Linked DNA regions of Homo sapiens. The protein of the gene in region 1 interacts with the protein of each later gene in a biochemical or structural test. Each region holds a gene or a part of one and is shown on either strand. Other genes may lie near its edges. The genes, in order: TLR4, SIGLEC6, SIGLEC7 and TNR.

Region 1 (8,389 bases):
AAAATGGAAAAAGTTAATTATGATTTGCTACCTTACTCAGCTAATGAGATATTCAAATATATAGTTTTGTGAATATGTTTCAAGTTGTAAGGTATCACACAAATTTAAGGCATTACAATTGGCATTAATTTATCCTTATTCCACCCTTTATCCCTCTTAAATCCAGAGGATTTAAAGAGCTAAAAAGAGGCTGGCTGAGGCCTGACTTTACTCTTTCTTCTCCTTCTGTTCTATGCATATAATTTCTTTCCCTGCTTGTCCACCTCACCTGCCATTTCTAGAATTTCCATCTGGGAGAGGGAACTGATAGGAAGGAGGCCAATGTCAGCCTTGAATATTTCGGCCTTGAAATATTCCAAGTTGTATGTTGATCTTCCTTCTCAGAGCCTTGTACATTTGCTTGAATAAACACACTTATGCAGAATTCATATTCAAATATGAATAGAACCACACTTACATGTAGCACGGATATACACAAAATCATACATTTTCAAGCATACTAAGAAACTGAGGCATACATCTGTAGATAAACAATCATGTATGTATGTTAGTTCCTCACTTATCCACAGTTTCACTTTCCCAGGTTTCATGGTCAGTTATGGTCTGAAAATAGGTGAGTACAGTACAGTAAGATATTTTGAGAGAGAGAAAGAAAGAGATCACATTCACATAACTTTTATTACAATATATTATTATAACTATTCAATTTTATTGTTAGTTATTGTTAATCTCTTACTGTGCCTAATTCAGAAGATGAACTTTATCTTAGGTATTTATGTATAGGAAAAAATATTGCATATATGAGGTTTGGTACCATCTGCGGTCTCAGAGATCCACTTGGGGTCTAAGAACGTATCCACCAAGCATAAGGGATAAGGGGAGACTACTGTACAAGCACAAGAGTAGAGAACTCATCTCAAACAGCCATAGACATCCATTTCAAATGGATGTATTCTTCAAGAAATATAATCACACTCTCTTCTATACAGATATGATCATGCGGACACACACACTTTCAAATACACACAGCCCTGATAGGGATACATAGGGATATGTGCACAAATGCACACATCTACTTTCACTAGTACATGAGACATGGAAACACACCCAGGGATGTTCAATCACCCTAGACCTGCTCAAACCAAACACACTCTGAAACACTCAGTAACAAACACTTCTGACTGTGGTCATATTTCCAGTTTTGACAACTGAATTTTGTTGTCTTTTCTTTTTTATAGCTTCATTCAGACATAATTGATATTATAAAACTGCATATATTTAATGTATACAATTTGATGAGTTTAGACATAGTCACATACCTGTCAAACCATCACCACAATCAAGGTAATAAATATATCCATCACCTCCAAAAGCTTCCTTGTGTATATGTATATGGTAAGAACACTTAACATGAGAGGTACCCTCTTAACAAAATGTTAAGTGCATAATACAGTATTGTTCATTATACGAACTCTGCTATACAGCTGATCTTTAGAGCTAATTCATCTTGCATACTATAATTTTATACCAATTAGACAACTCCCTATTTCCTCATTTCTCCCTTCCTCCTTTTCCCTAGGAACCACTGTTCTATTCTCTGCTTCTATGAGTTTGACTATTTTAGAACCTCATATAAATGAAATCAGGCAGTATTTGTCTTTCTGTTACTTGCTCATTTTACATAGCATAATGGCCTCCGGGTTTATTCATGTTGTCATAAATAACAGGATTCCCCCTTTTTTTAGGCTGAATAATATCCCATTGTACGTATATGCACATTTTCTTTGTCCATTTATTTTTCAATGGAAATTTGGGTTGTTTCCATAACTTTGGAAACAGTGATTGTGAAGAGTGCCACAATGAACATGGGAGTGTAAATATTTTCTTGAAATTCTGATTTCAATTATTTTGGGTATATATACAGAAGTGAGATTGCTGGATCATATAGCAGTTCTATTTTTAATTTTTGAGAAACCTCCGTACTGTTTTTCATAACGGCTACACCATTTTCCATTCCCTCCAGCAGTGAAGAAGGGTTCCAATTTCTCTATATCCTTGATGACACTTCATTTTTTTATAGTAGCCATTCTACCTGGTATAAGGTGATATCTCATTGTGGTTTTTATTTTCATTTCCCTGATGACATCCTGATTGTCCTTTTCTTGAATGTTCTGTTTCTGAGGAGGCTGGATGAACATTCTTTTCTGGGAACCTTCTTTATAAGAACCCCATTAATTCCAGACACATTGTTTTCTCAATGATAACATCCACTCTTCCCAAAATGTGGTCAAGGAGCATTGCCCAACAGGAAACAGCAATGTATACTCCCTGCCTTGAATACCTTCACACGTAGTTCTCCTGGCAGTGAGAAGGGTACAGGGGAGGGATCCCAGCCATCTGTGTCTCCCTAAAGAGATTCAGAGGTCCATCAAACATCACTTGTTCTGAAAAAAATAAACTTCTGCTGCAACTCATTTCATGAGGTCACCCCGGGTTTATCAGCCCATATGTTTCTGGAATCAAGAAAAGGTGACCTCCTGAGGTCATCCCACTTCCTTCCTGCCTCTAGCCCAAATTGTCCATGATAAGACCAGGAAGCGGAAATTTTCTTCCCGTTTAAAAGAGTGCCCCCTTTAAACAAATTATTTCAATGCTGCTTTCATGACAGTCATTACTTAGTAGGCAATAACTTTGGAATGACATCGAGTGACAAAGTGACAGAGTGTACTTTTCCATACTTCCTTGAAAAATAGTGGTTAATATGGATATTTGAAGCACGTCTTAAACAACCTTATTTATGATATTAGCTTATAGGCAAGACGTAAAAAAATGAAAACTGGATATATAAAAATAAAAATATATCAGGGGTGATTAGTTAAAAAATAGAACATGCTCGAGAATGACCAGGATGGTTGTGAGCATGTGTTAATCAGGTTTCCTTAGGAATTAGCCACTAGACTTTAACCTCTGTAAGGAGACAGACTTAAAATGGAAGGGGCATCTTGCATCAGGAGCCCCTTGACGACTGCAGTCATCAAGTAGAATTTAAATTGTATTCAATCAAAAAGGAAAAAGTGAACACCCAGTTCAGTCAAAACTACCAAAATGGTTTTATGATGGCTATAACATAATACAATTTCCATTCAAAAGACTCAGGAAAAGAACAATGTCTCTTTCTGTTTTCTCTGTCTTTATTCAACTTGATGAGGTAAGAGTTGAAATGACTTTCTTTGTCATGGGTTCCTTGACTGAGTTGGTTGAAATGCCCACCTGGAAGACTCTGTATTTTAGTCTAGCATTTATTCCCTCTGCACTGGAAGCTCCTTGAGATTAGCAGCCCTGCATATCTAGTGCACCATGGAATTACTCACCCTTAGCATAAGGCCTGACATGTGGCAGCATTTAATACTTATTAACTGAACAAGTGTTGGACCCAGCTGGGCAAGAAATGCCTCAGGAGGTTTTTATTTTTCCTCTTCAGATAGATGTTGCTTCCTGCCAATTGCATCCTGTACCCACTGTTCCTTCTGGATTCCATGATTTACCATCCAGCAGGGCTTTTCTGAGTCGTCTCCAGAAGATGTGCCGCCCCAGGACACTGTCCTCCCACTCCAGGTAAGTGTTCCTGCTGAGAAGGCGGTACAGCTCCACCTGCTGCCTGAGCAGGGTCTTCTCCACCTTCTGCAGGACAATGAAGATGATACCAGCACGACTGCTCAGAAACTGCCAGGTCTGAGCAATCTCATATTCAAAGATACACCAGCGGCTCTGGATGAAGTGCTGGGACACCACAACAATCACCTTTCGGCTTTTATGGAAACCTTCATGGATGATGTTGGCAGCAATGGCCACACCGGGAATAAAGTCTCTGTAGTGAAGGCAGAGCTGAAATGGAGGCACCCCTTCTTCTAAATTCTTTACTAGCTCATTCCTTACCCAGTCCTCATCCTGGCTTGAGTAGATAACAAAGGCATCATAGATGTTTTCACCTCTACCATACTTTATGCAGCCAGCAAGAAGCATCAGGTGAAAATAGAACTTATAGACCAGAACTGCTACAACAGATACTACAAGCACACTGAGGACCGACACACCAATGATGGTCTTATTCATCTGACAGGTGATATTCAAACTCAGCACAGGCATGCCCTGCTTATCTGAAGGTGTTGCACATTCCATTCGTTCAACTTCCACCAAGAGCTGCCTCTGGTCCTTGATCCATTGCAGGAAACTCTGGTGTTCACAAGTACAAGCAAAGTCATTCTGAGTAAGATTTAAGAAAGCTAGACTACTTGGAAAATGCTGTAGTTCCTGTTTTTTGGAAGTCATTATGTGATTGAGACTGTAATCAAGAACCTGGAGGGAGTTCAGACACTTATAAGGAAACGTATCCAATGAAAAGAAGTTGTTGTGGCTCATATTTAGTACCTGAAGACTGGAGAGTGAGTTAAATGCTGTTGGAGACAACTGCTCCAGTTGACACTGAGAGAGGTCCAGGAAGGTCAAGTTTCTCAGCTCTGTGAAGATATCTGGAAGGAAGTTTTCCTGGAAAGAATTGCCAGCCATTTTCAAGACTTCGAGACTGGACAAGCCATTGAAGATGCCATTGAAAGCAACTCTGGTGTGAGTATGAGAAATGTCAAGGTAAATGAGGTTTCTGAGTGATAGGAATACTGAAAACTCACTCATTTGTTTCAAATTGGAATGCTGGAAATCCAGATGTTCTAGTTGTTCTAAGCCCAAGAAGTTTGAACTCATGGTAATAACACCATTGAAGCTCAGATCTAAATACTTTAGGCTGGTTGTCCCAAAATCACTTTGAGAACAGCAACCTTTGAAACTCAAGCCATTTCTACTGAGATCTAGAAACTCAAGGCTTGGTAGATCAACTTCTGAAAAAGCATTCCCACCTTTGTTGGAAGTGAAAGTAAGCCTTTTGAGAGATTTGAGTTTCAATGTGGGAAACTGTCCAAATTTACAGTTAACTAATTCTAAATGTTGCCATCCGAAATTATAAGAAAAGTCTTTTACCCTTTCAATAGTCACACTCACCAGGGAAAATGAAGAAACATTTGTCAAACAATTAAATAAGTCAATAATATCATCGAGGTAGTAGTCTAAGTATGCTAATCGGAATTCTTCAATGGTCAAATTGCACAGGCCCTCTAGAGCAGATTTGTCAAACTTTTCCAAGTTTCCTTCATTTCTAAATTCTCCCAGAACCAAACGATGGACTTCTAAACCAGCCAGACCTTGAATACAAGTTTTCATTACATTTAAACTATCAAAATTATTTCTTAAAGTCAGCTTATGAAGCCTAATTTCTTTAAATGCACCTGGTTGGATAAAGTTCATAGGGTTCAGGGACAGGTCTAAAGAGAGATTGAGTAGGGGCATTTGATGTAGAACCCGCAAGTCTGTGCAATAAATACTTTGAATCTTGTTGCTGGAAAGGTCCAAGTGCTCTAGATTGGTCAGATTAGAAAAATACTCAGGTAATTTGAAAGATTGGATAAGATTGTGAGCCACATTAAGTTCTTTCAAAGTTTTGAGATGTCCAATGGGGAAGTTCTCTAGAGATGCTAGATTTGTCTCCACAGCCACCAGCTTCTGTAAACTTGATAGTCCAGAAAAGGCTCCCAGGGCTAAACTCTGGATGGGGTTTCCTGTCAATATTAAGGTAGAGAGGTGGCTTAGGCTCTGATATGCCCCATCTTCAATTGTCTGGATTTCACACCTACAGGAATAAAAAGACATTGATTATCTAATATTTCTGCTGAATAAGAACCTAAAATAGAATATTAATCCTAGTCATCCAGCTCTTCATACAGATGTGATGGGTCATATGATTGTGCATAGGCAAAGACATCAAGCAGGACAGATGATGATGGAATAAGCAAATAAGAAGCCCCACAGACTGAGTATTATCATACTGGCTGCAATGATAGGCTCTTTTTTGTCATGTTAGGCATACATGATAAGCAGAGGAGAAAATCCATAAGAAGGAAATCAGTTAAAGATCAATAATTGACATATATAAAGATTGTGCAGTTGATAAAGCATGTAATAGCCTTGGATCAAGTTTAGCCATTTTCTGTCACACAAAATTGTGATTATACATCTGATTGGTACAGATAATATGGATAGTTGTTAGTTGGTAGCCAAGATAAATGACTGGTAAATATCAATTTCAGAGATACGAAAAATTACACATAAGTGTCACAGATACTCTTAATGTTTATGAAAAGTGCTTACATGACAGCTAGATATTTGAAAGTTCTTGTTATCAGAGGTAAATGCTTGTAACAGGTGATAGGAGCGAGTTTTGTGGAAAAAAGTGAAAATTATGTGCTATAAGAGTTCACATCCAGAGAACCGTTGTGGACCAAGAAAATCAAAGTAGGTTTCTCTGAGAACACTTAAGTTGAAAATTGAAAGATGAGTAGAAGTTAACAATAAAAGGAGGTGAAGTGAACAGCAAACACAAAAGCCCCAAGGTTGACAGAAAAAAAATGACACAAGGAGGAATCATGACAAATAGCTTCCATGGTTGGAGAACAGAGATGAAATTGGAGTGTACAATATGGAGTTGTGGAGAAAGAAGGTTCCCAATTAGGCAGAGGTTTACCAACCAGATAAAGGGTTTTGAATTTTATCCTAAAAGAAATGAAAGCCATGCTACACACAATGTTCAGAGACATGTCCTAGAGACAGGGCTTTGATGCAGCCAGCAAACAGCAAGCCAATGAAAAATTCCTTTCAGCATTGCAGGTGCTTGTCAGTTACAATGTACAAATAAGTTCTTTCTTAATCCAGCCTGAATTACATTTACAATATTCCCCACCCATTTTATTTAGCTTCTTCAGGAGTTTCCTAGACAATAAAAGCATTGTGGTCCAAGCTTTTGTTATTTATTGGTAACTAGATAAAGGATAGGCAGTATAGTAGAAAGAACGCTGGAAGAGTGGACAAAAGAGCTTGGGTTTGGTGTTTCTGCAGTCCTCTCCTACTGTGTGATCTTGAGTACCTCTTTTCCTCTCTAGGTTTTAGTTATCACATTTATAAATCAAACAGCTGAACTTGATTATTTTTGAAGTTCTTTCTTTCAATTATATGATTGTTATAGCCCATCATTCTATCTCTGCATTGCTCTATACATTAGGTGAGAAGGAAAGGGTCTTGCTGTGTCTCTATATCATTACATTGGTGATAATCACTTTAGAGAAGTAGAGTATTAAGACAAAGAAAACATTTAAGTTGGATTCTGGAGATGTGAACTTAAATCTCTGGTCTGTGGCTAACAAGCAATGATAATGTATATAAGTCATTTAAATTATTCAAGCTTCAGTTTCCTCACCTATAAAAAGAAATATATATATATTTCTATAGGGGAAAGAAGGCTGCCTGGTCTATCACAAAGCATTCTTACAAGACTAGTTGAGTTACTGTATGTGAACACTGTACGAAAAGGCAAAGGATGTCTATTGTGCTATCTTTTGTGCTTGCCCTAATTCAGAATCTCCTATGGGTTAACAAGAAGGGAAGCTGGCCTCTCTGTAAGCACAGATTTAAGGTTTCTGGGGCAAGTTTATTGGGTATCCAGTGGATTGAAGATGAATTACATAAGAGACATTGTTTGGTGAAAAACTACTTCTTGTTTGAAAAAAAAAAAAAGGGAGAGGTGGTCTACCTTAATAGAGTACTTGACAAAATTTTCATGCAGGAAACTGAAATTTAGAACATAATGGCATAGATGCAGCTAGTAGCCATTATCCTAAGCAAATTAACAAAGGAACAGAAAGCCAAATACCATGAGTTCTCACTTTATAAGTAGGATCCAAACATGGAGTACACATGGACATAAAGATGACAAAAATAGACCCTGGGGATTACTAGAGAGGGGATAGAGAGAAAGCAGCAAGGGTTGAAAAACTAACTATTGGGTACTATGCTCACTACCTGAGTGATGGTATCGATTGTACCCTACACCTCAGCATTACGCAATATAACCATGTAAATCCCTGAATCAAAAATAAAAGTTGAAATTATTTTAAAAACCTAATGAAATTCTGTAAGAATACTTTATGCTTATAAAATATATTTTATAAAAATTTAAATATATACAGCATATTAATATTTATTATCACATTTAATCCAGCAGAATAAGTTTCATCATTTCCATTGATCAGATATGAAAACTAAGATTAAGGGAGATGAAGTAATATGCCTAAGGTTACATGGTTATAAAGGTTGGGGGTAAACTTGGCTCAGGTCTTCTGACCCCAACAGGACTCTATGCACTATACCACTGCCTTTGAATTGTTCCATTACTCCTTTGTTACATCCTATCTATATCCAAATTAGAGTATAATAGGTCGTATGCTCACTC
Region 2 (7,065 bases), on another chromosome or scaffold:
ATAATGGCCTCCAGCTCCATTCATGTCCCTGCAAAGGACATGATCTCATTCTTTTTTATGGCTGCATAGTAGTTCATTGAGTATATGTACCATATTTTCTTTACCCACTCTATCATTGATGGGCATTTAGGTTGATTCCATGTCTTTGCTATTGTGAATAGTTGAATCTTTCAATACATACATCCTACAGACTTGTTTTTTCCAGTGGAAACTTGACTGACTACATCAGTTTCTTTTGGTTACGGTTTTCATGGTATGTCTTTTTTCATCCTTCTACACACAACCTCCCCTATATTTATCTTTTATGTAGATCTCTTATAAACAACGTATAGCTACACTTTCCCCCAGTCTTACTATGCTGGTATTTTAACTGTAGCATTTAATTCACTTGTGCTTAATGTGATTCTTAGACTGTATTTGAGTCTAAATACAGAATCTTATACTTGTATTCTACATGTTCTATCCATCCTTTTTTTCTTTAATCTCTTATTTCTTGTCTTCTCTGGTTTGACTGAATAATGTTTCTATCACCTTTTATACTTCCTCTAGTTCACAGGTGGTAAACTTGGCTTCGAATCTTTAAGTAAATTTCCTCGAGATTACAATAATAAATTATCCAAATGTAACATTCATCATAACATTTAATTTTCTCTGGAAAAATATAAAGACTTTATGTAATATAAATTCTATTTACACTCTTCTGAACTTTATGTTATTATAGTTTCTGGGCTATATAATATTGGTATTTCAATATTACATTTGATGTTTGACCCCTCTACAAACCATCATTTTTACAACAAGTATTTGTTTCATTTTGCTCACATATTTGCTACTTTCCTAGGTTTTCATTTTTTTTGGATCTCAAAAATCTAATCTGGGATCACTTTCCTAATACCTGAATTATATGTTTTAGAATTTATTTGAGAAATCTTTTCTTTATTAACACTCACATATTTTGGTTTTCCTTAAAATATCTATATTTCACTTTCAGTCTTAAAATGTGTTTTCATTGAGTAGGCTTTCTAAAACAACATTTATTTCTCTTAAGCCATCAAAGACATCTTTCTATTGCATTTAGCCTTCCAATATTGCTCCTAAAAAAGTCAGCTGTCAGTCTAATTGTGGTTTTTTGCTTGTTTGTTTGTTTTGTTTTGCTTTTTCTGAGTTGGAGTCTCGCTCTGTTGCCCAGGCTGGAGTGCAGTGATGCAATCTCAGCTCACTTCAACCTCCACCTCCCAGGTTCAAGCAATTCTCCTGCTTCAACCTGCAGAAGTACCTGGGATTACAGGCAAGTGCCACCACACCGAGCTAATTTTTGTATTTTAGTAGAGATGGGGTTTCACCATGTTGGCCAGACCAGTCTCGAACTCCTGACCTCCAGTGATCCACCCACCTCAGCCTCCCAAAGTGCTGGGATTACAGGCGTGAGCCACTGCTAACTGTGGTCTTTTAAGTGTAATCTATCTTTTTATTTTTCATGGCTACTCTTAAGAATTTTCCTTAATAGTTGGTCTTCATTAAATGCTTTCTTCAATTTCACTGGAATAGTGGAGACTGGGATTTGTAAGAGGAAGCTGTGGAAATGGACATGGGGTATTGGTGACTGGTGAGGAATTGATCTGGGGAAATCTGGATGGACAAGATCATGTAGAGAGCCTTGAGCAGAAAGATGATGGATGGAAACCTTATTTTGGGGAGTCGTGAAGAGTTCTGAACAGGGGGTGACACAGACACCTGGTGCTGTGGCCTCTGGGCCTACTCCTTTTCAGCCTTAGAAGAAATTGCCAGCAGAAACCGTCTGTTAAAACAGCTAATCAAAGCCGGGTGCGGTGGCTCATGCCTGTAATCTCAGCACTTTGGGAGGCCGAGGAGGGCAGATCACGAGGTCAGGAGATCAAGACCATCCTGGCTAACACGGTGAAACCCCGTCTCTACTAAAAATACAAAAAATTAGCCGGGTGTGGTGGTGGGTGCCTGTAGTCCCAGCTACTTGGGAGGCTGAGGCAGGAGAATGGTGTGAACCCAGGGGGCGAAGCTTGCACTGAGCCAAGATCGCACCACTGCACTCCAGCCTGGGAGATACAGCAAGACTCCATCTCAGAAAAAAAAAAAAAAAAAAAAAGCTAGCCAAAGCCAGATACAAGGCATTCATTTACAAAAATATACAGACTTTATGAAAACCTTTGTGTCAGGGCCTTTGTTAGCTGTTTTACAGCTAACAAAGCTGTATGTTAGCTGTATGCTTTCTTTGACCTTTCACAATAATCTGGTTAGATGGAAATTATTTCCCTGCCTTACAGAGCAGGGACATAAAGCGACTTGCTCAATAGCTGGCATAGATGGAGTTGAACTCAGTTCTCTTGGACAGAAGTCCTGTGGTCTGCCATATATACGAAGGTATTTATATAGTCCATTTACAACAAAAACATTAATTTTAAAAGAATTGGACACAGTGTTATGGGCTAAATTGTTCCCTTCTAAAATTCATATGTTGGAAGTCCTAAATCTCAATATCTCAGAAGGTTACTGTATTTGGAGGGTCTTTAAATAGTTAATTTATTTAAATTAGGTCATGGGGAGGCCCTAATCCAATATGACTAGTGTCTTTATAAGAAGAGAAGATTAGGACACAAACACACTCAGAGGAAAGACCATGTGAAGACACAAGGAGGAGACAGCCATCTACAAGCCAACAAGAGAGGCCTTAGAAGGGACCAACCCTGATAACACCTTGTTCTCAGACCTCTAACATCTGAAACTATACGAAAATAAAGTTCTGTGTTTATGTCACTCGGTTTGTGGTACATTGCTGTGGCAGCCCTAGTAACCAATACACTGAGAGGTACCATGTTCTCTCCAATCAAGGTTATGGCTTTGGACAATTCCTCACTTGTGTATCTTGATTTCTGAGTACTCAGTGTCGGTGACCTTTGGTTCCTGAGGTTGCACCTTGTGGAAGTGTAGGACAGCGTAGTGGAGCTCCTGCTCATCTTCTGAGATGGGGCCAGCCTCAGCAGGGTGGTCTGAAACTATGCCTGTCTGGAACTGGTGCTGATGACCCTTAATGGAAGAAAAGAAAAGATTCAGGGCTGGACAATAGGTTCTCAAAGAAAGCAGCCAAGGATCAGAAAGGGAGTAGAACTGATGGAACTTTATTATTTATCCATTCATTTATTATTTTATTTTATTTCATTTTATTTTATTTTATTTTTGAGATGGGGTCTCGCTCTGTTGTCCAGGCTGGAGTGCAGCGGCATGATCACGGCTCAGGCAGCCTTGAACACCTGGGTTCGAATGAACCTTCTGCTTCAGCCTCCTGTGTAGCTGGGACTACAGGCATGCACCCCACCTGGCTAATTTTTGTAGAGATGGAGTTCTACTATGTTGCCCAGGCTGGTCTTGAACCCTGGGCTCAAGGAATCCACCCACCTTGGCTTCCTAAAGTGCTGGGATTACAAGCATGAGCCACCACATCCACCGCATTCATTTATTTTAAAATATTTAATAATTAAGATTGGCAAGCCCTTAGTGAGTGTTTACATTAATCAGTCATATTCTATTCTCAAAAAATGCTTTGCAGTGGATTCCATGATTACATTCATCTTACAAACGGGAACACTAAGGCTAAGAGAGGCTCCACATGTTGCCTATAGACACACATCTATATAAATGCACCACTGAGAAGGACTCAGAACCAGCTTATTGTTGTGTAGGTCATGTGACATGTGCTAGATGTTAAGCCATGAAGAAAGCAGACACAGTCCCAGATAGTAGGCAGTGTGGTTTTCTATGAGATGCAGTTAGTTAAAAACAGGAAACAAAATCACTTTTTTAATTCATGATAGCAGATATTTTGAAATATAAAGCAGGGGCAGGAGTGGCATATCTGATTCCTAGACAGGTACTGGAGGACAGAACAGAGACCGGGTCCTGCAGTACAGGCCACCGGACGCCCTCTCCTGTACCTTCTCTTTCTAATGCCCCTGAAAACTTGAAAGTAAAGCATGGTAAAGAAATTATGTAATGATTCCCAACAAAGTGGGGATTTAACACACACTAAGTGTGTTATATCTCCAAATAAACCAAGAGGCAATACAAGAAATTATGGAATGAGCAAATAAGAAAAAGTGGGAAATCTCTGGGGAAACAAAATATTTTATACTGGAGTGTGTGTGTGTGTATATGTGTGTGTGTGTGTTCAGGGAGGCATTGGTGACAGTGCGTGAATGGCTACAGAAATGAGATTTATGTTCCACTCATGTCTTTCCTCCATCATTGGGATAATATATTCCTGCCTGCATTCTTGCTACACAAATCAGTGGCAAAGTCCGAGACTAAAGGTGTGAATTTCTGCAGGAGAAATGACAGATCAGCACAAAAGCCCTACTGAATGAAGAAAATAACAGGTGGAAATTGCCTCTCCCTGGGCTTCCCCTGGCCACCTTCCCCCATCCACACATCCCAGACTTTTGGAAGACAGTCTAGGTATTACCTCCCCCAGCACCAATTTTTCCTGAGGGTCTGAACAACAGGAATCATGACTTGAATTATTCTTGGTCAGTTCTCACTCAGGCTATGGTAGAGTAACTGGCACCCTCCCAGCATAATTAGAAAACTATACATAGTATGTAAAATATGTGTTTCACAAGGAAAACAGGCAGACAGGACTGTGACATCTGAAAGAAAGGAAACCAATGAGGTGAGTCTCATGATCAAATGACAATTTCCAAACTGCAGTACGTGGAGGATAAATTCAAGCAGAACACAAGAGTCTTATGAAACTGTGGAGGCAGCAACTGCAGTTCAAGTGGGAATGATGTGGGTGGAATTTGTAGAGCAGAGTACAGAGAGAAAAAACTACACAGAGAAAGAACTCCAAAAAATATGCATAGAGGTCCCCTTGAATCTTTGGCTGAATACTAAGCTGTATGCACAGAGTGAAAGGCTGAAAGCCTGGGTACGTGCTGCTGGAGAAGGAACAGCTATGAGAAAGCTGGAATGAAGGCAAATATAAACTCACCCTGCCAAAGCTTTTGTAAAAATCTTTGAATGGTCAAGACAATCCACTAATAAATTAACTGCATTCGAGAACAAAGCTCAACAATTTTTAAAGGAAGATTAAAATATCCGGATAATCAACAATGTAACACGATGTCCAGTATGCCACCAAAATCACTACCTATGCGAAGAAGCTGTGGAATGTAAGCAATGAAAAGTATATCAGTAAATAGAAACATATCACCAAATGATGGAATTAGCAGAAAAGAAGATTAAAAACGGCTATAAATACACATATTCAAAGACTTAGGCCAGGTATGGTTGTTCATGCCTGTAATCCCAGAACTTTGGGAGGCTGAGGTGGGCAGATTGATTTGAGCTCAGGAGTTCGAGACCAGCCTGGGCAACATGGTGAAATCCCATCTCTAATCCCTAACCCACAAAAAAATTAGCCAGATATGGTGGCTCACGCCTGTAGTCCCGACTACTCGGGAGTCTGAGGCTGGAGAATTGCTTGAGCCCAGGAAGTGGAGGTTGCAGTGAACTGAGAACATGCCATTGCACTCCACCCTGGGCAAAAGAGTGAAACCCTCTCTCAACAATAACAAAAACTTAAAGGAAAACAGAACATAATAAGGAAATGAAAACTATAAAGAACTGGGCTGGGTGTGGTGGCTCACACCTGTAAGTCCAGCAATTTGGGAAGCCGAGGCAGGAGTACTGCTTGAGCCCATGAGTTTGAGACCAGCCTGGGCAACATGGTGAGACCCTGTCTTTACAAAAATTTGTTTAAAAAATTAGCCAGGCGCAGTGGTGCATGCCTGTAGTCATAGCTATTTGAAAGGCTGAGGCAGGAGGATCACTTGAGCCTAGGAGGTCGAAACTGCAGTGAGCCATGTTCATGCCACTGCACTCCAGCCTGGGCGACAGAGTGAGATCCTGTCTCAGGAAAAAAAAAATAAACTGAATTGAATTTCTAGAGATGAAAAATGGCAATATCTAAAAAGAAAAGCTAATAGCAGATTAGGTACGGCAGAAGAAAATAGCAATGAACTAAAAAACGTAGCAATAAAAACTTTCCAAACTGAGGCACAAAGAAAACACAAAAACGAAAAATAAATAAGCACAGCTTCATTGGCCTGTGGGACAATATCAAGCATTCTGACACAGGTGCAACTGGGATCCCAGAAAGGGGAAGGGAGTTAAAGAATTATGGAAAAAACAATGATTAAAATGTTTTCACAATACCAAGTCATATATCCAACAATATCTGCAAATACCAAGAAAGATAAAAACAAAGAAAACCACACCTAGGCATGTCATAATCCTATTGCTGAAAACCAACAAGGAAAAGAAATGTGCCCTAGGGAAGCCAGATGATTGGACAACCCTGCTAGAGGATAAAAGTAGTAACTCTCCTCTCAGCAGTCTGATGGAACTGGGTAAACCAAATTTGATGTTCCAGGTCTGATAAGGAGAGGCCCAGTAAACACCTCAAACCTTCCGTTAGGACTCAAGAAGGGTTACAGATTAAAAGTAAGGGTCCGCTGGGCACAGTGGCTCACGCCCGTAATCCCAGCACTTTGGGCGGCTGAGGCAGGTGGATCACGAGGTCAGGAGATGGAGACCATCCTGGCTAACACGGTGAAAGCCCGTCTGTACTAAAAGTACAAAAAAAAATTAGCTGGGCGCGGTGGCGGGCACCTGTAATCCCAGCCACTCGGGAGGCTGAGGCAGGAGAATGGCGTGAACCCAGGAAGCGGAGCTTGCCGTGAGCTGAGATCGTGCCACTGCACTCCAGCCTGGGTGACAGAGTGAGACTCCATCTCAAAAAAAAAAAGTAGTAATATTTTAAAACTATCAAAAAGGCAAAAAAGGGAGATAAATATAAAAGGACAAATATAAATATAAAGCAGAGCAATCTGGTAGAATTAAACTGAGCCAAATCAATAATCACATTAAATATAAATGGTCTAAACACTCCAATTAAAAGGAAGATATTGGCAGACTTGATAAAATAGGTAGAATAAATGTGATATCTGTAAGACAGACACAATACATATGAAG
Region 3 (8,389 bases), on another chromosome or scaffold:
CAATGGCATCGTGACGGCTGAGATCGGCTCCCAGGTGGAAATGGAGTGTGTCTCCTATTCTTTCCCAGATCTCAAGTACTGCTGGATCCACAACAGCTCCTTCCTAAACTTCTCATATGCAAAGTTGTATCTCTTGAGTCTGGCCTGGTAGCAGATGGGCACTTACCAATGCACTGTGGAAAACCCCGTGACACAGCTGATCATGTACATGGACGTCAGGATCCAGGCCCCCCGTGAGTGCAGCAGCTCCCGTCCAGGCTCATGCTCTGCACATCTCCCTGCCTCCATGCCCTGCTAGGCAGTGCCCACCCTCAGGAGTGCCACCTCCACCCTGCCATGACATGCTCACAACCTCTGGGTGAAATCTCCCAGTCCTCTCAGGTCTGGGTCCAAAGATGCCTCCTCTATGAATCCTCTGGAGTCCTCAGATCAGAGTCAGGGTGAGTCACAGGGGGATAAGGGGGATAAGAGTGGTGGACATTAGCTGTGCACTTACCATGTGCCCACCACCATTCTAACCTGCTTGACCCTCACTGTCTCTCTATGGAGAAAGTGAATGTGATTAGCCTCACCTCCACTTTACAGGTGAGAAAACTAAGCCCCATGGAGTTTGAGTATTTTATTTAAGGCTTCAGTGCTAACCCACAGAAGAGGTGGGATTCAAGCCCGGGCAGGCCGAACCCACAGCCTGTGGCCTCAACTGTTCCCCTCAGCTCCCTCCAAGATGAGGAATTAGAAAGATGCAGGGATGGGACGGGATTTTGTCATAGCTCCATGACCATGACAAATCTCTACTCCCCACAAATTTCACCAAGCTCTTGGCTTGATTCTTGGGCCTCTAATAACAAAAGATAAACAAGCTGCTCTCCCTGCCCCCAGGGGTAATAATAACTAACCTAATTTCCAGAGTTGATGGCACGTCTTATGGCATGACATAACAGTGTGAAATAAATTATTATTATTAACTCCATCATTGTTGTTACTTACCCCTGGTAATTGCGCCAACAGTGTCAACTCCTTCCTCAGCTTCACCCGGCCTCTTTCCCCCACACAATGGCGTCTGCCTCCTGTGCCCTTGGAAATCTTTAAAAGTATGAGGATGTTGAGGACTCTCAGTGGAGAGGTGAAGACCGCAGACCATCTCCTCTACCTCCTAGGGTCCCACATGGGGAGGGCTTGGGCTTGGACTTGGCAGGAAGTTGGGCCCCTTCACCTCTCTACCCAGGACTCTCCCGTGTTTCTTATGGACCTGAGATGTGACTTCTTCCCTGATTTCTCCCCATAGGGCAAATCAGGCTGCATGTCCTCAGACCCGAGGACAAGACCAGAGGGGCAAGCAGGTGAGGAGAAGGTGATGGAGAAGGGCTGGGGTCTCCATAGGGCCTGTGAGGCTGGAAAGGGTCCAGGGTCCCTCTGGAGGGGACCAGCAAGAGAGGGACCCAGCCCAGTCACACCAAGGTCCGGAGATGGGGGCTCCTGGCGGAGGTCTGCAGACCCAACCAGGGCCCTGGGGATGAAATCATGGGCAGCATGGCCATTGGAAGCTCTATCTGCTGATCAGAGCTATGCAGGCTGGGGCAGGCCATGCGCAGAGCTGGGCTGTAATTTCAGGCGCCTCCTTTCTCAGCTCCTGTGTGTCCAGGTTCTCGGATTCCTTCACCAGAGGCCATGGAGTCAACGGAGATGCTGCAAACTTATGGCTAAGGGGTGCCCAGTCAGTGGTTGCTTCACTCAGTGCTGGGTGCCGGGTGAGAGAAGAGACCTCAGAATCAGGCAGGGATTAAATTCCAGTCCTGCCCTGAGTACCTGAGCGACCTGAACGCAGCCCCCGTGAGGCTCCCGCACCTCGATGCACCATGGAACGATCAAGTCAGCATGATTAGCACATCCATCAGCTCAAATTTTTATCTTTTTTTTTTTTTTTTGGTGACAACATTTAAACTCCTCTCTTTTAGCTATTTTGAATTATTCAGTACATTACTCTGTCATTGGAAACAACACAGATGAACTTAGAGGATGTTATGTTGAGTGAAATAAGCCAGGCACAGAGAGACAAACACGTTACAATCTCACTATATTCGGAATCTAAAGTAGTCATCCTTAGAGAAGTACAGAGGAGAATGGTGGGTACCAGAGGCCAGGGCGGGGAGTGTGGACCGATTGGATGGGGAAAGGGAGAGTTTGGTCATCAGGCATGCATTTTCAGTTAGACAAGAGGAATAAGTTCTGATGTCTTGTTGCACAGCATTGAGGGCTGCTAATTCTACTGGAATCAGCCTCAGACTCCTTTGCTGGAGGGGTCGTGAACCCTCAAACAAGCCCGAGCCTCTGCATTTTCTTACTTGGGGATCTTGATCTCTGAGTACTCATTGTTGGTGGCTTCTTGTCCTGATAGGTCCTGAGGCTCCCCCTTATGAAAGCTGAGGGGTGCATACTGGATCTCTCTTTCCTCCCCTGAGGAGTGGGCAGCCAGGCCATGGTGTCGGGGGTTATCATCTGCCCAGGACTCAGTCAGGTTACCCTGAATGGAGAGAGAGAAGAGAGTCAGAGCAGAGCAGTGGAAATAGGATAAGGCAGGGAGAGTCACAAGTTGTTTGATCGGTTGGTTGGTTCGGATATATTCCTCTGTATAGAATTAAACTTCATGAGTTCCTGCCTCTATCCCACGTTCATTTTATAGAAATCTCCTTCATTTATACTTTCCTGCAATATTTAACACTTATTGAGCAACTTGTTTGGTGTTTATTAATCTTATTAACTTCCCGCAACAACTCCATGAAGAAAGTAGCGTACCCAAACTCCCTGTTATGCCGGGACCCAATCCAGTCCCTTCCTTCTGACCCCAAAGCCTGGAGTCCTGCTGGGGCCCTCTGTGTGTGAAGCCCTGATCCGGGTGCTGGATGGACTGTGGTGGACACAGTAGGTGTTGGCCCTGACCTCCTGAAACTCACTTTTTAATTGAGGGAATTTGGCAAAAATGACTGTCAAACAAACGAATATCTATGTGTGAATTATAAGATGGGCAGGAAGAGGCTAAGTGAGAGAGAATTACAGGGCCTTGATTTGGATGGGGCACCTGCTCTTAGGAAGCTCACAGTTCGGTGGTATGGGGAGGACAACTCAGTCAAAGAAATTATATCCTCTGATAAGAAGTATAACTGCTCCCCAAAATGTCCATACCCTAATCCCCTGAAACCTGTGAATCTGTTACGTTACATTGCTAAAGGGACTTTACAGATGGAGCTAGGTTAAGGATATTGACATGGGGAGGTTATCCTGGATTATTTGGGTGGGCCCAGTGGAATGACAGGAGTCCTTACAAGTGAAAGGAGGAGGGCTTAGAGAGATTGGAAGATGCCAGGCTACTTGCCTTGCAAACAGAGGAAGGGACTTGAGCCAAGGAATGCAGGTGCCTCTAGAAGCCAGAAAGGGTGAGAAATTGCATCCTCCCCTGGAGCCTCCAGAAGGAACCAGCCCTGCCTGCCAATGCCTTGATTTTGGCCCAGTGACACCCATTTTGGGGTTGTGACCTTCAGAACTTTAATCCATGTGTGTTGTTGGAAGCCAGGAAATGCATGGTAATTTGTCACAGCAGCCACAGGAAACTAATACAGACTCACACAGCAGAGAGTGACAGAGGCTGCCTGGGAGGGTCCTCCTTCATCGCAGCCCTTCCCTGCTGCTCCCCTGTGCAGAAGATGCTCCATGGAACTGTCAGTGATTTTGCTTGCCAGATTCTCTCTTGATTACTCAAATTAATATTCACACACATACCAAGTCTAAGCACTGCTACTATCAAGGTCACTGTGACTACCACTTAAGTGGCTGAGTCTAAATGTCCACCTTGCAGTCTTCTCCTTCCTGGACTTTTCAGCAGCAGAGGACCCAGCTGCTCACCTTCCCTACACAGAAGGCCTTCTTGACTCAACTATAGGACATCATGCTTTTCTGGGTCCACCTCACCTTCTTGGCAACCTCTTTGCCAATTGCTTCAGGTCTCCCTGACCTTAAATATCAGAGCAGCCCCGGGTTCTTTTCTTCTTTACCTTTGCCTTGTGATCTTATCCACTGTGTTGGCTTCATGCCATCAATAGGCTAATGACTCCCAAATCTGTACCCCCAGCCCACTCCTTTCTCCTGACTATAGTCTTTGATCCAGTGGTATAATTCAAACCCCCGCGTTCTTGTCCAAAGACACACAAAACTCAACCTATTCAATCTGAACTCCTCCTTTTCTTTCCCAAATCCATTTCTTCTGCAATCTTCTCAGCCTCAATGATTGGCACCTCCATTCTTCCCACTGCTCAGGGCAAAAATCTGGAAGTAATTCTTGCTCCCTTTCTGTGGCTCACATTCTAATTCCAATTCATTAACAAATCCCAGTAGGTTCCACTGCAGAATTCATCTGGGAGACAGTCATGTCTACCACTGCTGCTATCTTGGTTCCAGCCAACACCACCTTCTGCCTGGGATGTTCACCAGCCTCCTGTCTACCTCCTATGCTCTCTCCTTCCCCTGCCACACACACGGTCTCTTCTGCACACAGTGGCCAGAGGAATCCCATGAAAATGAAAGTTGATCATGTTCTTCTGGTCTACAGCTATACCACCCTGAACGGACCCAATCTCGTCTGATCATGTCCTTCTGCTCAAAACTCTCCAAATGCTCACAGTAGCCTGTGCAGTCAGACACAATTCACATAGGCTCAACTCCTCCAAAGTCATTTCCTGCTCTCAGTCCTGCCTCCCTCTGTCTAATCACACAGATGTCCCATGGCTCCTCTCCTTTCCTCTTCCTGTGCCTGGGCCTTGCTTTGCTCCTCCCTCTGCCTGGAAGGCTCTTCAATCACACAATAAATGTCAGATCTGAGCCTCCTTCTGTTCCTACTGAAACTATTCCCAAATACGGAGGAAGACTGACTCTTCCCTAACTCATTCTATGAGGCCAGTATCATCCTGATACCAAAATCTGGCGAAGACACAACAAAAGAAGAAAACTTCGGGCCAATATCCTTGATGAACATTGATGCAAAAATCCTCAACAAAATACTTGCAAACTGAATCCATCAGCACATCAGAAGGTTAATCCAATATGATCAAGTCGGCTTCATGTTGGTTCAACATACACAAATCAATAAATGTGATTCACCACACAAACAGAACTAAAGACAAAAACACATGATTATCTCAATAGATGCAGAAAAGGCTTTTGATAAAATTCAGCATCGCTTCGTGTTAAAAACTCTCAGTAAACTAGGTATTAAAGGAACATATCTCAAAATAATAAGAGCTATCTATGGTGAACGCAGAGCCAACATCATATTGAATATGGAAAAGCTGAAAGCATTCCCCTTGAAAGCCAGCACAAGACAAGGATGCCCTCTCTCACCACTCCTGTTTAACGTAGTATTGGAAATTCTGGCCAGAGCAATCAGGCAAGAGAAAGAAATAAAGAGCATCCAAATAGGAAGAGAGGAATTTAAACTATCCCTCTTTGCAGATGCATGATTCTATATCTAGAAAACCTCGTAGTCCCAGCCCAAAAGCTTCTTAAATGATAAATAACTTCAGCAAAGTTTCAGGATACAAAATCAATATAGAAAAATCACTAGTATTTCTATACATCAGGAACTACCAAGCCAAGAGTCACATTAGGAACACAATCCCATTCACAATTGCCACAAAAAGAATAAAATTTTTAGAAATACAGCTAACCAGGGAGGTGAAAGAACTCTACAATGAGAATTACAAAACACTGCTCAAATAAATCAAAGGTGACACAAATGGAAAAACATACTATGCTCATGGATAAAAAGAATCAAAATCATTAAAATGGCCATACTGCCCAAAGAAATTTATACATTCAATGCTATTTCTATCAAACTACCAATGAGATTCTTCACAGAACTAGAAAAAACAATTTTAAAATTCATATGAAACCAAAAAAGTGCCCAAATAGCCAAGGCAATCCTAAGCAAAAAGAAAACCTGGAGGCATCACGTTACCCAAATTTAAACTATATTACAAGTCTACAGTAACCAAAACAGCATGGTAGTGGTACAAAAACAGACACATAGACCAATGGAACGGAATAGAGAGCCCAGAAATAAAGCCACACACCTACAACAATTTGATCTTCAACAAAGCTGACAAAAAAAAGCAATGGGGAAAGGACTCCTGATTCAATAAATGGTGCTGGGATAACTGTCTAGCCACATGCAGAAGATTGAGTGGGACTGCTTCCTTATACCACATATAAAAATCAACTCGAGATGGGTTAAAAACTTAAATGTAAAACTCAAAACTATAAAAACTCTGGAAGACAATGTAGGCAATATCGTTCTGGATAAACAGGCAAAGATTTCCTGACAAAGATGCCAAAGCAATCACAACAAAAGCAAAAATTGACAAATGGGATCTAATTAAACTTAAGAGCTCCTGCACAGCAAAATAAACCATCAACAGAGTAAACAACCGGAATGGGAGAAAATACTTGCAAACTATGCATTAGGCAAAGGTCTAATATCCAGCATCTATAAGGAACTTAAACAAATTTACAAGAGAAAAACAACCCCATTAAAAAGTGAGCAAAGGACATGAACAGACATTTTTGGCCAACAGACATATGAGAAAAAGCTCATTATCGCTGATCACTAGAGAAACGCAAATCAGAACCACAATGAAATATCATCTCACACCAGTCAGAATGGCTACTTTTAAAAAGTAAAAAAAATCACAGAGGCTGGCAAGGCTGCAGAGAAAAGGGAACACTTATACTGTCGGCAGGAGTGTAAATTAGTTCAACCACTGTGGAAAGCAGTATGGTAATTTCCTGAAGAGCTAAAAGCAGAACTATCATTTGACATAGCAATCACATTACTGGTTTTATACTCAGAGTAATAAAAATCATTCTACCATAAAGACACATACAAGCAAATGTTCATTGTAGTACTATTCACAATAGCAAATATATGAAATTAACCTAAATGCCCATCCATGACAGAATGGATAAAGAAAATATGGTACAAATACACCATGGAATACTGTGCAGCCATAAAAAAGAATGAGATTATGTCTTTTGTGGGAACATGGATGGAGCTGGAGGCCATTATCCTTAGCAAACGAACACAGGAACAGAAAACCAAATACTGCATGTTCTCACTTATCAGTGAGAGCTAAATGATGAGAACTCATGAACACAAAGAAGAGAACAACAGACACTGGGGCCCACTTGAAGGTGGAGGGTGGGAGGAGAGAGAGGAACAGAAAAAAATAACTGTGGGGTACTAGGCTTAGGACCTGGGTGACAAAATAATCTGTACCACAAACCCCTCTGACCAGAGTTTATGTATGTAACAAACCTGCACATGTACCCCCAAACCTAAAATAAGAGTTTTTTTTAAAACTATCACAATTACTGAGATTTTTGGCACCTTCTTAAATTTTGCATGCTAGGCCAGGACCTCACTCATCTCACACTAATTCCAGCCCTGCTAGAGAGGTAGATGTTTAAGAGACGAGAATGTGCAGGGCTGCAGTTATGAAGTTTGGGCTTTTTCTCTAGGTTAGGGCTTGTCAAACTAGAGCCCTTGGGACAAATTCTACCCACAGCTTGTTTTTATAAATAAAGTTTTACTGGCACACAGCCAGCTAATCATTTACACATGGTCTACGGCTGATTTCCTGCTACATCAGTAGAGTTGAGGAGCTGCAATGAGACTGTGTAGGCCAGAAAGCCAAAAATATTTCCTATCTGGCCTTTCCAGATAGTATTTTCTGGCTTCTGCTCTAGACAGTGTTGGGGGTGGGAACAGCTGTCCAGATGCAAAGAAACTGATCAGTGATGGCTTCTGAATGATTCCTCCCATCAGGGCAGGGGACACAAGAGGCAGGGAGGTGAGGAAGTCCAAGACAGAGATCCTCAGGCCTCAGCATTGAGAGAGTTTAGGATTGGTGGGGGTGGGAGCAATGCTAGCCATTCTTAGGGAGGAAAAATGGACAAGATTTGGTGAATGTGGAGCTATAGAGAAGAAAGGGAGGACAGAGAGGAGATAACTCCTCCTCCATGCCTGGCCCGAGAGAAAGTAGGTAGGAGGGACTGTCATGCAGTCAGCAAGATGGGGAATCCTGCAGGAGAAGCTGGATGGTGGGAAGGAGGAGGAGATGAGGAGATAATTTTGGCCATGATAAGCAGAGAAATCCTGGAGGCCATCCTGTGGGAGATGTCCCAGCTGGATGCTGGGTGTGGAGACGCCCATATCACTCACCTGAGAGGCTGAGCCCCTGATGGTGTTTGCATCCTTCATGCCTATGTCTCCCACGTCCGCTGCTGGCCTTGCCGATTTCTTCCTGCAGGACCTCACTCTGAGTGAAGAGACCAGAGAGCCTTT
Region 4 (8,389 bases), on another chromosome or scaffold:
TGTCCTCTCTTAAGCTGCTTAGGGCTTTTGGTCCAGCACCAGCTAAAATGAAAATCACCAGACCACTTGGGTGCCACCTGGTTTGGACTTAAAATGAAGTCCTGGTTTTCATATTTGAGGTAGTAATGTGATTTAACAGAATATATCCAGTTTCTTTTCAGCATGCTGCACTTGGTGGTTTTAGATAACTTAGGCCTTTCACATTTAATTTAAATTAATTATGAAATGGGGGAAGTGGCCTCCTAGTTGCTGTGTAAGCATGATATCTGAAGCATAGTAGACACTCAGTAAATGTGTGTCGAGTAAATGAAATGAATGGAAAATCTTCTTTATCCATGAGAAAGAAGGGGAAGCATTTCAATAAACTGGAGCTTTTTGGAAAAAAAAAAAAGTGTCAGGGAAATGCAACTGACCACAAAAAGCTTTTGTCCTTCAACTCTTTAAATCCAGAAAACCCGAATCATAATGGATTGAACATATTAAAATGTGATTATGTAGCGCAGAGGGTTTTAGCTGTGGGAGGTCTTGTAATTTGCATTCACAAAATGGCCTGCCTAGAAGAAGGCAGCCTGAGTGCCTGATGAGGACACAGAGCTTCGCAGTAGGGGGTTGGTGTAGGTCAGACCTTAGCAGAAGGAAATAATTAAACAATCGTTTCCTAAAAACAGCACACAGGATTGGGAGCCAACCGTCTATTTTGTAGCCACTCTTGGATTCTGCCCTTTGTTGGCCACTTGGTAGCAATGTTCCATTCCAATCAAGGAGGTATCAACTTGCTTTCAGCTTTGGTCCTAATTTCTAAACAAACACAATCCCTGCTCAAAAAGTAAACTGGAATAAATGTCTTTCCATTTCTTCATGACTCTGTAGATGATGCCAAAATATTAAGGACATTTTTTCTTAAATGAAAATAATTCTGCCTAGCTTTACCACAAATTTCTAGATCTGGAATTTTAATTTTAAACTTAAGGAACTGCCAAACCAAAAAATACTGCAAATGTTATAAGAATGTGGTTTGACTATAAGACAAAGTTGGACTACCTTCTCCATGTTCTGTCAATATTCTAGGAGAAAAATATTCTTCAACTGCAATGTTTTCTATCCTCTTATGAACCATCTTCTCCTTTTAGCCTTTTGTCTTTTACTAATACTTTCTTAATATCAAATCACAGGAATAACTTGGGCACCTTGTAACATTTCATATCAGAAGAGGAGAAGCTGCACCTGCTATTGTTGGGCTCATCACAGACACTCCAAAATTTGGCACCTTGGTGTGCTGAGTACTTTGAATTAAAGAGGAATGAAAGAGCCTCAGAAACAGCCCCGGAAGCAAGCAAGGTCTTTCTGACCATCTGCAGTCCTCCCATCTCCTGACCCTTCTTCTCCCTTTGAAGTGATTCACAGAAATCAGAATTCCTCTTCCTCAGGGCAGGTAATAGAAACTAGAACTCCTTTTCCTCAAAGCAAGCCATAAAACCTAGAAAGGTAACTTTTTCCCTCCTCCCTTCTCCCTTGAGGACCCTCATTCCAGTGAGGTCTTGTCCCACAGAGGAGGTGGAGAAGAAATGCTTCACAGAGAGGCCAAGAAGAATCTGGGCAGACAGGCCTTGCTGGGTCTCCCCCTTAGACTATTACCATTAGATCATAGCCATTTGTCCAATTACGTTTCTACATGGCTGTCCATTATTCCTCAAACCTAAGCGTAAAAACAGACAATTTCCCCCAGGTCTTTGGGTCTTCATTTCTGAAGGCTCCTTTGTCATGTGAAACTTTGATTAAATAAATTTGTTACGCTTTCTCTTGTTAACCTGTCTTTTGTGATAGCAGTGTTGTTGTGATGCTTATATGATGGGTGAGCAAGGGCATCACACCTTTCTGCCCCCAAGTTATCGAATGTCAACTCTTCAGGTTACAGCATAACCTTGGAGCTGTGGAAAACCTCAGCCACCGGCCTTCTGGAGGGATTCCTACAGAGCACTGTAGCTTTTATGGTTATGGGGTTTCTTCTAAAACATACTATTTAGAGCAGAACCATGGTTTGAAAGCTTTTTGGGTGGTAAACTTATTTTTTAAAGGACAAAAATCTTAAATGGATGTACAAAATATAAAACAGATCAAAGTGGAGCTGTCCTGGTTGGAGGCATGAAAGAGGGAGTAATTAGAGGTCTGGCTTTCCACTGGATTCTAGCCTCAAGGCACTGCCATAGAACCTTGGTGCACTAATGGAACACAAGCTACTGCCACAATAGTTCTGAACCAACGTTTTCTAAACTGAGCTTAAGCCTTGGCACCTGATGCTGTTTGGTTTGGATTCAGTAGCAGAGCATGAATCACTAATCTATAAATGTGGTCTCATTACATTGTGTTGTGGTTCTCATCTCTGGTCAACTCAGCCTTTTGTCCTGGACTTAAAACTGGCTTTCTGGTACATCAATTTCTGTTTATGAAAAACACATAAAGCTGTACCAATAGTCACCTATCTCAATTTCTGTTACTGACAGAGAAAGTTGCTTAGCCTCTGAGTTTCAGCTCCATCAACAATAAAATGAGAACCAAAACTTATGCCAGATGCTATTTATAACTTTCGAGACATTCTTGGTGAGGACACACACACATTTATACATCACAATAGCTAATTTACAGCATTGAAGTTGAACACTCTTTGTTAGCTGAGGATACAATAAGGCAAAATATGACAATTAATGAATCAATCCTGGAAATATAATAATCTTGAATGAGGTGATCTGTGGGATGAAATAATAATAGACTTAAGCCATCACCTTGAACAGTGACCCAACCCATACCTACTTATTTTTGAATGACTTGTTTCCTACCACTTTCACTTCTGAGTATGTTCTGAGTATATGTGCGTATACCAAGTATTGAGCACTCACTCTCATCAGCACAGAGCTGATTGCTTTGTGTGCTTTATCTAATCCCATCCTCATATTAACTTAATGAAGAAGGTATTCTTGTTTATCATAAATTATTCTTGCTTATCTTGTAAAATAAATTGAAGTTTGGGAAGGTTCAGATGACTTTCTCCAAATATCATCATAGGTAAGAATGAGTCAGCTCTTGCTGCTTCCAAAGATCATTGACACCAGAGGCTGACAAATGAGTGTTCTTCATGAGTAAGATCAGCATAAATACAATGGAAATATTAAAAAAGAATTGTCTCCATGAAACACTCTCCCAGATGACAGTATTTGTAAGGATGAGTAATAGGGAAGATGATGAGCTAAGCATCTGGTAGAGTAGCTCCATTGCCAGGTACCAGAATTGTCCCAGCTCTAGGAGAAATTCTAGCACCTCTGTTGTCTCTCCACTCCTTGGGCAATTCTGTGGTTCTTTTCCAAGTGACCTAGTAGGCAGCTCTAGGGAGAAGGGTTGGAGGCACTCACCTGTGGAGACGCTGGCCGAGGTAGGGGGGCTGCGGGCCTGTTCTTTCAGAGCCACCACATTGACAATGTATTCCTCCCCAGGCTTTAGTCCTGTCTGGTTAAAGGACGTAACATCGCTGGGGACCTGAGCAATCACTCCCCCTTCATTGTTCTGGACAGTGGGGAGAAGCAGAGAGCAAAAGAGAAAAGTCACTGGGAGAGAAATCTGATGAGAGAAAGATAAAGGTGTGGAATACTAATTGTGGATTGTGAATTTAAAATGGGGGCGATGTCTCTTTCCTCCATGCTGACAGCTGAGTATCTGGGGCCAGAAATAACTCCCCATAGACTCCATAAGAATGACACCACCCTATGAGGATTTGGCAAATGGAGGATCAATTTTTAAGAACATTTCTTTGGCCACTCCTGAGTTTGCTGAGTTTGCCAATAAAAATTAGTGATGAGGTGGTGCAGATTGGCTCTTGCCAAAGATCAAATGTTTGATGGTTGCGGTTAACATTCATCAGAGGTTTTTGGCATTTATCGTAATGAACATGCCCCCGGCTATTTAGGAGAGGATAGTCATGTGTGTTTGTGTGTAAACATCTTTATATACACACACAACACATTTCAAACTAAGACATTGCTATGAGATAATTGTTTATGAGCCAGAGCTAATATTTTGCTATATCTGGAGTTTCTCATGGTGCTACATTCGGTGTGAATCTGTCGATGTCTTGTTTCCCCTTCACCCAGATGAATTAGGACTCAGTGACACAACCACATATGAAGTACAAAGAAAGGAAAAAGGAAGCTTGGAAAAAGATAATACAAAGAAGAGAAGAAGGAGACAAGAGGGAGAGGGAATGAGAAAGAGTAACTTGACGAAATTGAATCTAGGATTTATTATCTATCTTTCTATCTTATCGTTCCCTCTCTCTCTTTCCCTCCATATACTTTCTATGAGTGTCCTTAGAAATGGAGGAGACAAGAGGGCCTCTTTTGGAGGGCACTGCCATTCTCCCCTATTCTTTGGCCTCTATTTATGGTACCCAGGGTGCCTTATATGTAATTTACAGTCATACTCTTATAAATCAGTGTGATGAATGCTCCCCAGTGGCCTCAACCTACAGATCACAACAGTTATTAAACCATGTGGCCATGCATTTGACCTTGGCATTCCCTGGTCAGCCTCTCTTTTAATTAGAGTTTTACATATTGGGTATAGGTAACAGGAGAACCTGGCGTAATTTTTCTTCCTGAAAAACATTGGTAGCAATGTTCCATTCCAATTGACATGATCGTTTCAATTGTTATGTAACTCAATTGCCACATTTTATTTATCATTTTAACTCAAATAGGACACATTTGTATAGATGTCTGTTTAGATTTATTTACCTTGCTGTGATGTGACTATAATATGACTGTAAATAAGAAAATGGGGCATACAGATTTAGTGAACAGAGCCCCGGGATAGGTGGTGGGGACCCAGGTACTCGTTTTAAGCCTGTCACCAACTAGCTGTATGATGTCCTTCAAGTTTTCTGAATCGTAGTGTCTATAAATTAAACTAAACTAGATGTAAAATGAGGGGTCGTACCTGTGAACTTGAAGGTCTTTTGTAACTCCAACAGTTCACAGCTCTAAGAATTTTGAAGTAAAAGAATGGTGAAATCATGGTCTTGTTAGCCAAAAATGTGTCATTTGTCATTAAGTCTGATGAATGGCTAAAAAATGTTCTTTGATGTTGAAGAATAAAGACAGAGGGAAGGAGTATAATTGAACTTTATATCCTCATGAGTGGTACAGTTAGGGAGGACATTGGTAGGGTCAACAAATTCTGGAAATTTAGAGCCAGGCATACACCTGTGGCAATTCGGAAAAGTTAGTTTTAGAATTAAGAAAATAAATAAAATACTGCTTTAGAGAGTAGAAAGGAATCTTAGGATACTTTAAAAGTCATAGACTAATAAAAAAGTTGCTAAATTAATAGGATACAAATGTATTATGAATAATCCAGGAGAGCCAAGGTGTTTTGTTTTATGTCTGTAACCTTTAGGGATTGATGCCATGCAAGCTGACTTTTCTGTGGTGCATCTGTCTGCACAGAATGAAGCTTTTGGCTGATTATGTGATGGATTCAGCCTGGCTTTTCTTATGTCCTAAAGAGAAGCCTCAATTTTTTCAGGGTCTGGTTTTCATGCTCACCAAAACTATGGCTCATCAGACCCCAGAGTTATCTCAGCAGAGAGCTGGAGCTGGTGGCTGCTTCCCACATCCTCTGTTCTGCAAGGCCAGGGTGCCATGCTCAGGGCTACTCTTGTCAGCAGGTCGTTACCACATATTTGTCACAGAAATGTTCTATATCCCAGACACCCACAACATGCCATTTTGTGTCTTTAATGGCATGGAGAGAGATATTGGGTAGCACTTTCCTTGCTGCCCCTGATTCCAAGCTAAAGGTACAAATATTCCAAATAAGTCTGTTTGGCAGTGTAACAGGTGAGTGTTACCTTTGGAATGAAGCTGATTTCCCACCCATCGAAGGAAAATGAGAAGGGCTCCCACTGCACCTCCACGGTGGTCTCTGTGATCGTCTTAAATTGTAGCCCTTGAGGAGTGGAGAGATCTGGAACACAGCAATGTAGGTGACAATGTCATGGCTAACCCTTGGGACAGACAGCATTGCCTGGTGCTTTGTCTTGGTGAACTCCCTCCACGCCATGGGCGTGGTGGTGTCTGGTGGACAATCCCAATCTTGCTCCAGACACAGTGAGTCCCAGGTGCAGAATCAACCCACCCCATGTGGCTCTAGTGCTCGATGTTGATGGAATACATGAGTTAACTTAAACACAATCTATATAAACAATTTTTAATGCTTTTTATTGCATTAATAGGTTACTATTAAAATGCAGACATCATTTTTCTTTTCTTACTAATGTGGTAGATCTTGGCATATCATATATAGTACAGTGCCTTTTTCAGAGGACTTGAGCAGTATCTTTAGAAGCTTTACAGGACTCCCGGGAGGTACTATGATGGCTTCTATCAGTGTTCTCATTTTGCACACAGGAAAAGAGAGGCACAGAGAAAGCTGGCTAAAGTTGTGGAGCAAACCAGTTTCAGAATTAATACTAGAGTGATTTCCTTGATCATCTGATGCACATTGAGAGTATTTTGTTTAGCTCAAATCACTAAGTCTAGGATGGTCTGAATTTTTCATTTCATGTATCTCCCTCTTTTCCTCCCACCACCCCTTCTCCCCCAACCACACAGTCACATACACATGCACAGGTTTTGTGAGATGGAAGTGTGCTTGTCCTAATGGAGTTTCAATTATCAGCCCTGAAATATGACAGCATGACTTTTCTCAGTTCTCCAGGAAGCCTGCTCCCATTTTAGCTTTGCCTCTCATGGGCTATTCCCATTGGAAAAAGGACAGATTTTCTCATCCTTCCTGTTTGGAAGAGTTCTCATGCTTCTTGGTTGGAAGGCAGGGCTGACTGCAAGCCCACTTGAAGTTGTGTCAGGTGGTTTACATGATTTTGTCCTTGTCACCTGGGAGCTTGCCTGAGGGAATGCCCTGAATTGGCATAATAAATGCCACAGGAGATGGAAACCTCATCACTGTGCATGCATGTGGATCAGAGAGGAGACGCTTGGGAGTTAGGCCAGGCACTTAGGGTGGTGACTCATCCCGGAGCAAGGTGGGAAAAGCGGCAGATGGTGACCTGCCTCTCTGCACAATCATTGCAGATATTTAAAACCAGTTCTCAGGCACCAGAGGATTTTTTTTTTAAAAAAAGGTCAAATATAAACAGAGATAATTATAGGCATATTAACAGAGTCAGCACTCTTCTCATAGCGGAGTCCAAAATTATAGCAGAATTTCTGTCACCTGAAAAGCAAGGGGACAAGATGACTTCTTAAATTCCTTCCCCTCTGCCTGTCTCTATCCTTGCATCCTTCAAAGGTCAATTCAGTCCTGGAGCTTCCATGAAGATTTCAAGGCTAAATCTTTCTACCTTGACCTTTTCCTTTTCTGAACTTTCGTGGCATTTGTTACCTGAATACCATCTACCTACACAAAATGGGCTCAGATCTCTTACCCCTTATCTGGTGGTAAGTCCTATTTACTGGCCCGGGGGCTTTCTGAATTCTAGAGGGCTTATGTTTTCATGGTTACTTCTTGTTCCACTTTCTTGGTATTGCTAAAAATCTCTGTATCACTCATACCTCATCTCCTTTGAATGTTCTCTTCTCTCTTCCCAGATTTTAATCAGATACAGCCCCTTTTTCATGATCTCTCCAAAGACTTTCCACATAAGGCACAGAGGCATTTGTGTGCATGCAGGTTTTGCAGTAGACTTGGGGTGATGAGAACTTCTCTTGCCTAAATTATTCTGCCTGGCTTTTGAAATTCTAAACTAAAACAGGCTTATTGTATCAATTTAAGAATTCAGAGGGGTATAAAGAAAAATATAATAATTATTTCCTATCTCCTTCTTATTCTACTCTGTGATGTAGTCAGTGTTAATAATTGTTATGTAATCTTTTATATTTTTCTATGCTTGAACATACACAAAATATAGGTACACACCCACAGAAGTTTCCCTTTATGTATAAAAAAAACTGTTCATTTCTTATGGAGAGCAGTTTAGATTGCTTTCTGTCTCCATCTCTCTCTTTCTTCCCTGTGAATCCTTCTAAATTATGCTCTAGGGCTTCAACTTTTATAACTAAAATGAACTATTAAGATATTTCACTAAACAAAAGACCAGGAGGAAATTATGCCACCTCTCTATCAGGAGAAGGGGATGTTGTCAGCTGTGGTTTTAAATAAGATTTTTTTCTCACTTTGCTATACACTTATGGTCGAGAACACACCATTTAGCACTTGCTTCTTAGAGGTCCTAGTTCATATCTCCTTGTTTTGGATCCCTAACTGATTCAAAGTCTGTAGATGTCTTACACTTTCCTTGACTTCTAGTCAGAGTCTAGCTTAT

Evidence for each region.
Region 2: the proteins of TLR4 (region 1) and SIGLEC6 form a complex in vitro, tested with the Homo sapiens proteins (one study listed by IntAct).
Region 3: the proteins of TLR4 (region 1) and SIGLEC7 form a complex in vitro, tested with the Homo sapiens proteins (one study listed by IntAct).
Region 4: the proteins of TLR4 (region 1) and TNR form a complex in vitro, tested with the Homo sapiens proteins (one study listed by IntAct).

Annotation. Positions count from the first base shown.
Region 1 is NC_000009.12:117,709,737-117,718,125, reverse strand, and holds part of TLR4 (toll-like receptor 4 isoform A precursor), read right to left. Parts: intron 5,738-8,389; coding exon 3,478-5,737; 3' UTR 1-3,477.
Region 2 is NC_000019.10:51,517,196-51,524,260, forward strand, and holds the end of SIGLEC6 (sialic acid-binding Ig-like lectin 6 isoform 1 precursor), read right to left. Parts: intron 3,061-7,065; coding exon 2,887-3,060; 3' UTR 624-2,886; downstream 1-623. UniProt on the Homo sapiens protein: Putative adhesion molecule that mediates sialic-acid dependent binding to cells. Binds to alpha-2,6-linked sialic acid. The sialic acid recognition site may be masked by cis interactions with sialic acids on the same cell surface.
Region 3 is NC_000019.10:51,147,195-51,155,583, reverse strand, and holds the end of SIGLEC7 (sialic acid-binding Ig-like lectin 7 isoform 1 precursor), read right to left. Parts: intron 8,364-8,389; coding exon 8,267-8,363; intron 2,662-8,266; exon of another isoform or gene 2,522-2,661; coding exon 2,339-2,521; 3' UTR 2,058-2,338; downstream 1-2,057. UniProt on the Homo sapiens protein: Putative adhesion molecule that mediates sialic-acid dependent binding to cells. Preferentially binds to alpha-2,3- and alpha-2,6-linked sialic acid.
Region 4 is NC_000001.11:175,387,884-175,396,272, forward strand, and holds part of TNR (tenascin-R isoform 1 precursor), read right to left. Parts: intron 6,013-8,389; coding exon 5,897-6,012; intron 3,556-5,896; coding exon 3,405-3,555; intron 1-3,404. UniProt on the Homo sapiens protein: Neural extracellular matrix (ECM) protein involved in interactions with different cells and matrix components.